Linked DNA regions of Homo sapiens: region 2 is linked to region 1. Evidence: fine-mapped expression QTL. Tissue or cell type: blood mononuclear cells. Region 1 holds a variant in brackets; the other region holds the start of a gene. All regions are shown on one strand. Distances are between the middles of the regions. Region 1 overlaps SYNM-AS1 (SYNM antisense RNA 1). Region 2 holds the start of TTC23-AS1 (TTC23 antisense RNA 1).

Evidence for each region. PIP is the estimated chance that this variant, and not a neighbour inherited with it, causes the effect.
Region 2: it holds the start of TTC23-AS1, and the variant in region 1 is the best candidate, but not a certain one, in a credible set for the expression of TTC23-AS1 in blood mononuclear cells (TOPMed, PIP 0.53).

What each region holds. Positions count from the first base shown.
Region 1 is chr15:99,096,890-99,099,797 of GRCh38, reverse strand. The region is part of intron 2 of SYNM-AS1 (SYNM antisense RNA 1); the gene reads left to right. Among named protein-coding and RNA genes, the nearest start is that of SYNM, 6.7 kb to the left of the region's middle. The variant C/T (reference allele first, on the strand shown) is at 1,052.
Region 2 is chr15:99,137,715-99,140,622 of GRCh38, reverse strand. It overlaps TTC23-AS1 (TTC23 antisense RNA 1), which reads right to left and starts at 1,306. Exons shown (of 2, transcript NR_186223.1): 1 at 1-1,306. TTC23 (tetratricopeptide repeat domain 23) reads left to right here. Exons shown (of 14, transcript NM_001288615.3): 13 at 1,224-1,306; 14 at 2,496-2,908. The coding sequence ends at 2,613. It also overlaps a transcript of SYNM not described here.

The DNA of each region.
Region 1 (2,908 bases):
CAGCATGGGGCCACACCAGCAGGGCCACATCCGTCTCTAAGGTTCCTTTGTGCAAATTGGGAAAAGGCACCCTTTGTGGGAAGATGGATGAGCCCACTGGGTGCATGACCTGGTCCGTGGATGGTTCCTTGGTGCTAAGGAAGAGATGCCCTGCCTCAGGGTGGAGGCTGTCCTGCACCCACTTCCATAGCTCAGCAAGGACAGCACAGGTGGGATTTCAGTCCCACTGATCACCCCATCCGGATATGTTTGTGCAGTGAACAAGCTGGTTAACTATCCAAAGTGGTCCACTGTCCCAGCCTCTGCCTGTAGGGATGAAGATCTAGGGCTCTCTTGGAAGGCTAGTGGATGCCAGCACTGATGGGTGGCATGAGGACCAGGTGGGCCCCCCACCCTGGTGCCTTAGCACTGTGTAAGTCCTCAACAGTTCTGGTGCAATCTAGGGAAGGGGATCAGGTCTCTAACCCCTTGAATGGATGGGGATTGAGTTTTCATCACCCTGTGCTTATTCCCTGCCTCCCTAAGTTTGTGGACCGAGAGGCATGCTTGCCCCCGACAGGCTTGGCCAGGTAGGAAATGAAGCCAGTGGGAAAGGGAAGTGCGTCGAGCTGGCGGGAAGGGCTGGGCCAGGCACAGTGGTGTGGAGTGGACTGACCCACTTTGCATCCTGGCACTTAGTACCAGCATAAGCTTAGGCATGACAACCCCTCTGAGCCCACCTCCTTATCCATATAATAGTAATAATGAGAACAAAATAGACCTTCTTATAGAGGTGTTAGAAAGACTAAGCTTTCACGTCCATTGGCCTCAATGGAGAGCTTGTTAAAATGCAGATCCCTGGGCCCCACACACAGAGTTTCAGAGTCAGTAGCCTGGAGTGGGCTAAGCATTAGTCCATTCCCAGGTGAGGAAGATGCTGCCAGGCAAGGACCACAAGGAAACCTCCTGGCTCCCACCATCAGAGTTAGTCCTTGTATAGTCTTGCCACGCCAGGCACTGTTCTGAGCTCTTCATGTGGATGAACTCACAAGCAGTACAGCAGCCCGTGCAG[C/T]GGGTACCATCAGCTCGAGGTGAATGATGTGGAGGCTGAGCCACAGGGTGGTCAGCTTGCCCGAGCCCGTGCAAGTAAAAAGTGGCAGAACCAGGATTTGAACCCTTACCTTACCCACTTTGCCACACTGCCCGTTACGCTGTGTGAGACGTGTTGCACAAGACTTGGCACACCGCACTCAGCAAGTGCTGGTCATCTTCATGGGAGAGGTCCTGGAGCCCAGAATCACATGGAGCCCACCGGTCAGAGGTCTGTCTCCAGAAGGCCAGGGAGAGAGGCTGAAGAGTCAGGGCACAGATGCAGATGATGGCAGCTCCGCAGGGTCTGAGACCAGCTGGGTCTAGGGAGCAGGAGGACAGGGACGAGCTGGTCCTTGAGCCTCCCAGACTCAGTTTCCTCATCTGTAAAGTAAGGATAACCCCTCCCTCATAGGATCGCTACAAGGGATAAGTAAGATGAGAATGTAAAGGCCTCAGGACACAGCGTCTTCATGCTCCGTCTCACTCCAAAATCCGAATCCAGCCACTCTTGCTCAGAGCCCACAGTGTCCCCACTCTGTCACAGCTCTTCTGGCTATTTTGGGTGGGTAGATCATTTGTCACTGTTTCATAGGAGCACAGCAGGTGTTTGTTGGGGTATAGGCTGCCTTTTCAAAAGGTACAAAAATAGCATTTGTCACATAAAAAAAATGCAGTAATCTAAGCTGCACAACTTCCCTCTCTTAATTTGGAAAGTCATGTCATAATCATTACAAATGAACTTGGGAAGAGCCCCAAGTGACAAAGAAACATCCCCTGTTTAATCTTCCCAACAGGGACAAGACTTCTCACTTCCACTGAAGAACTAAAAAAAGAATAATTTGCCGTCAAAGAACAGCATATTTGCTCTCCCTGCCCTTAGAAGCACATTTTCTGTGGAGTTTGTTGGTGGTGTTCATGATAGGGTAACTCGAAAGCTAGTTTTTGAGTCCCCTCTGTGTGCCTGGTGCTGGGCTGGGCCCTGGGAACACAGAAAGGAGAAAGACACAGCCGTCTTCCTCATAGACCCGGGGCCTGGGGAGGCCAGAGAGCTTGGGGAAGTTCCTCTCTTCCCCCAACGCTGTCACAAGTGCCTGCTTCTCCCTAATTGCCACCCACCAGTCGTTTAGCCACTCACCTCTTCTCTATCTACCTGCTGCTGCTCCAATCCAATCTCATGGCTTTAAATACAGTAACATGCCAGTGATCCTCGGATGTGTCGCTGCAGCCCAGACTGCTGTTCTGACCCCGCTGTGTCTTGGGCAGGGCTCTGTGGATGACATGACCCCCATAGATCCCTACTCTAACACGGGGGCCATGGTGGTGCTATGGGTCCCTGGGTATCCGCATCAATTTGGACGCCACAGTAGGAACCAACCATCCTGAAAAGAAATGAGTGCTCGCGTCCTAACTGGCTGCAGTCGCTCTGGGGAAGGACCAAGGCTCTCACTTGCCATAGAGGTTGTCGGGTCCTTTCAGCCAGTGTGTTCTGGTGGCTCAGGGTCAGAAAACTGGATCATAACTTGGCTTAGAAGTGTTTTTGATTATATATATACTTGGGGATGTTTCTGCCGGCAGCCCATTTATCTTTCCCCTAGGAACACCGTGTTCTATGATTCACAGATCCCTCAGATCCCTGAGTCTGTAGAACCCTTAGTTCACTCCCCACCCCCATGGCCATTCCAACTTTGCAGCTCATAACAGTAATTATACTCACCTTTTTTATGAGACTTATGGGCTGCCATCCGCCCTCTGCTAGGCCTGTAGCCAGTGGCTCTCAAAGTCTAGTATCTGGATGAGCAACAGCAGCATCACCTGGGAACGTTTTAGAAATGTACAC
Region 2 (2,908 bases), 41 kb before region 1:
CAAGGCAGGTGGATCACCTGCAGTCAGGAGTTTGAGACCAGCCTGGCCAACATGGTGAAACCTCATCTCTACTAAAAATGCAAAAATTAGCTGAGTGTGGTGGCGGGCACCTGTAATCTCAGCTACTCGGGAGGCTGAGGCAGGAAAATCACATGAACCCAGGAGGTGGAGGTTGCAGTGAGCCAAAATCACCCCACTTGCACTCCAGTCTGGGCGACAGAGTGAGACTCCATCAAAAAATATATATATATATATTTTCCAGTATTTTCATCTAAAAGCTCCAAGTTTTGCATTTCACACTTAGTCCTTCAAATCTTTCTTGAGCTTAATATTTGTGTTTGATTTGGGGTAGTGATCCATTTTCTTCCATTTGGAAAACCAGCGGTCCCAGTACCCATTTATTGACTAGCCCACCTCTTCCTCACCAATCCCGCAAGGCCATTTCTGTCATCTGTCAAGGCTTGGGCTCTCTGCCCTGTTCCACTGGTCTTTTTGTCTACCCCGGGTGACAAACATGCTGTCTTAATTACTTTATTTAAAAAAATAAAAGGGTCTTTGGCATTCAGTAAAGCAAGTTCCTCCACCTCTCCACCTCATTCTTTCTCAAAATTATTTTGGCCATTTTGGGCACAACTTTAATCTTTCTCCTCTCCTTGATTTGCCCTAGCCTACTACAAGCAATCAAATGGCAAGACTTAAAGTAAGCAGAAGGGAGAAATCAAGCCAAAGCCAGCCCTGGGTAGTCCATAAGCTGAATATTTGGTTCCTAATAACTAAGACATTGCTGTGTAGTCAAGAGTATAGACAGCCTATATATTAATAAAAGTAGAGTATGTGTTTACAAAAAAAACAAAACTATTTTTTTAAATCTTTTCCAGGCTATAACAAGGGCCACATTTAAAAATAGAAACTGGAGCCCATCCTCTGGTCAGTACCAAGGTTCTTGCCTTTATTTTTAAAAATACTACTTTTAAATCTATTTTTTGCATACAGATAGTCACAGAGAGTTTTGTGAAATAGTGCTAAAACTGTTCACTTTTGCCTAGATCCCTCAGAACATCCAAACCAAAGGTCAGTCACTAGGAGACATCCCAGGAGCATGCTAATTCCATCACAGCAGGGCCTAAGAATGAGGTCATCTTTCTCTCATTCAAGGGAGACCTTAGTTTCCTGCTCTCAGCGACACTTCCATAGCCTCATGATAGCTGCTTGGTGTTCTACAGTGTCTCCAGATCCAGACCCTCTTATATGGACCGCAGGACAAAAGGACTCTGGCCACCCAGCAGGCCATGGGCATGCTGTCCACGTGAGTTGGCGTCCCTCACACTTTCTCTATCTCATTCCCTTTCCATTCAGAATCTCAAGAGAAAGCTGGTTCTAGAAGGTTCTGTGTAACCTTCTCTGGAATGTTTTGCTGACTTCCCATAACTTGCATAAAGGACAAGTTCCTTTGAAACCCGAGTTGTAAAAGATCTTCCTTGCCCAGGTATTTAAAAATAATTCATCCTTTAAGTCAGAAATATATGCTGGATGTTGTCTTCCTGCAGACCAGCCCCTGCAGGCTAAGGCACCTGCTGCAGGGGGAGGGCCCCGGGAATCCCTGTGGCCTCCTGCAGCCCTGCTTCCGGCTTCCCTCTGCCCTCGGATGCCCGTCAGGACTGGAGCCGGAAGGTTCACTGACTGACCTTAAAGGCTGGCCCCTACGTCCTTTCTCAGCCCGAGCAGAGGCCCAGCGCTCTGCCGTGGAGGGCCTACCTCACAGAGCCTGGTCCGCAGAGAGCAGCCCCAGGGCTGCCTGAGTCTGCTCAGGGAAACAGGGCCACAGCCCGGAGCAGACACAACCTGGCCAGCAGGGCGCCATCCCCTTTGAGGGCAGGGAAGGCGAGCCAGGGAGGCCTCCAGTGCAACCCTGACCATCCTCCTCACCCATGTCCTGCTCACCAAGCCAGCTAAGGGTTGAGGGCCTCAGCTCAGTGAGGATGGTCACAGGTGATTTTAAAAGATGGGAGGGGCCAGGCGAGGTGACTCATGCCTATAATCCCAGCACCTTGGGAGGCCGAGGCGGTGGATCACTTGAGGCCAGGAGTTTGAGACCAGACTGGCCAACATGGCAAAACTTCGTCTCTACTAAAAATACAAAAATTAGCTGGGCGTGGTGGCATGTGCCTGTAATCCTGGCTACTCGGGAGACTGAGGCATGAGAGTTGCTTGAACCTGGGAGGCGGAAGTTGCAGGGAGCCGAGATGGGGCCACTGCACTCCAGCCTGGGTGACAGAGTGAGACTCTGTCTGAAAAAAAAAAAATTAAAAAAATAAAAGATGGGAGGAAAACATCTCATGTTTTATGCTCTGTGCTACAATTCTCCTCTCATTTATAGCCCCTACCAAGTCTTCTCATAAATGGGTCTGGGCACCTGCTGGGCAGCAAAGGCTGGATGGGAACGGTGTGGGGGGCTGAGGGGCACCACACTCACCCCACCCTCTGCTTGTCTGCAGGGCCCCCAAGGTTGCTTCGAAGCCAAGGCAGGCATCAAAAGCCAAAGTGGCCTTCTGCACCAGCATCCCTCAGGACACCCTGCTGGGGAAGGCCCGGCCCGGCACAACAGCAGACTGAGGCCCCCACCCTGAAAAAGCCTAGGACATTCCTGGGCACTGTCATTTAGGGTGCTGTACAAATCACCTCCGCCTAGAAAATGGAATTCAACAGTCAGGATACAGATTTCCAAGGCCAACTGTTGGCCCCAACATGCAACAGTGAGACCATAAGCCTCCCGTGGGCCACATTTTGACAGTGGATGCCCTTCAGGGTGATATATGCTATAAAGCAGTTTTCTATCACCTAAGTGGTTTTTCTTGCCAACAAGAATTTTTACCCATCAGCACTACTGTGGCTGAAAAACTTCTCTTCA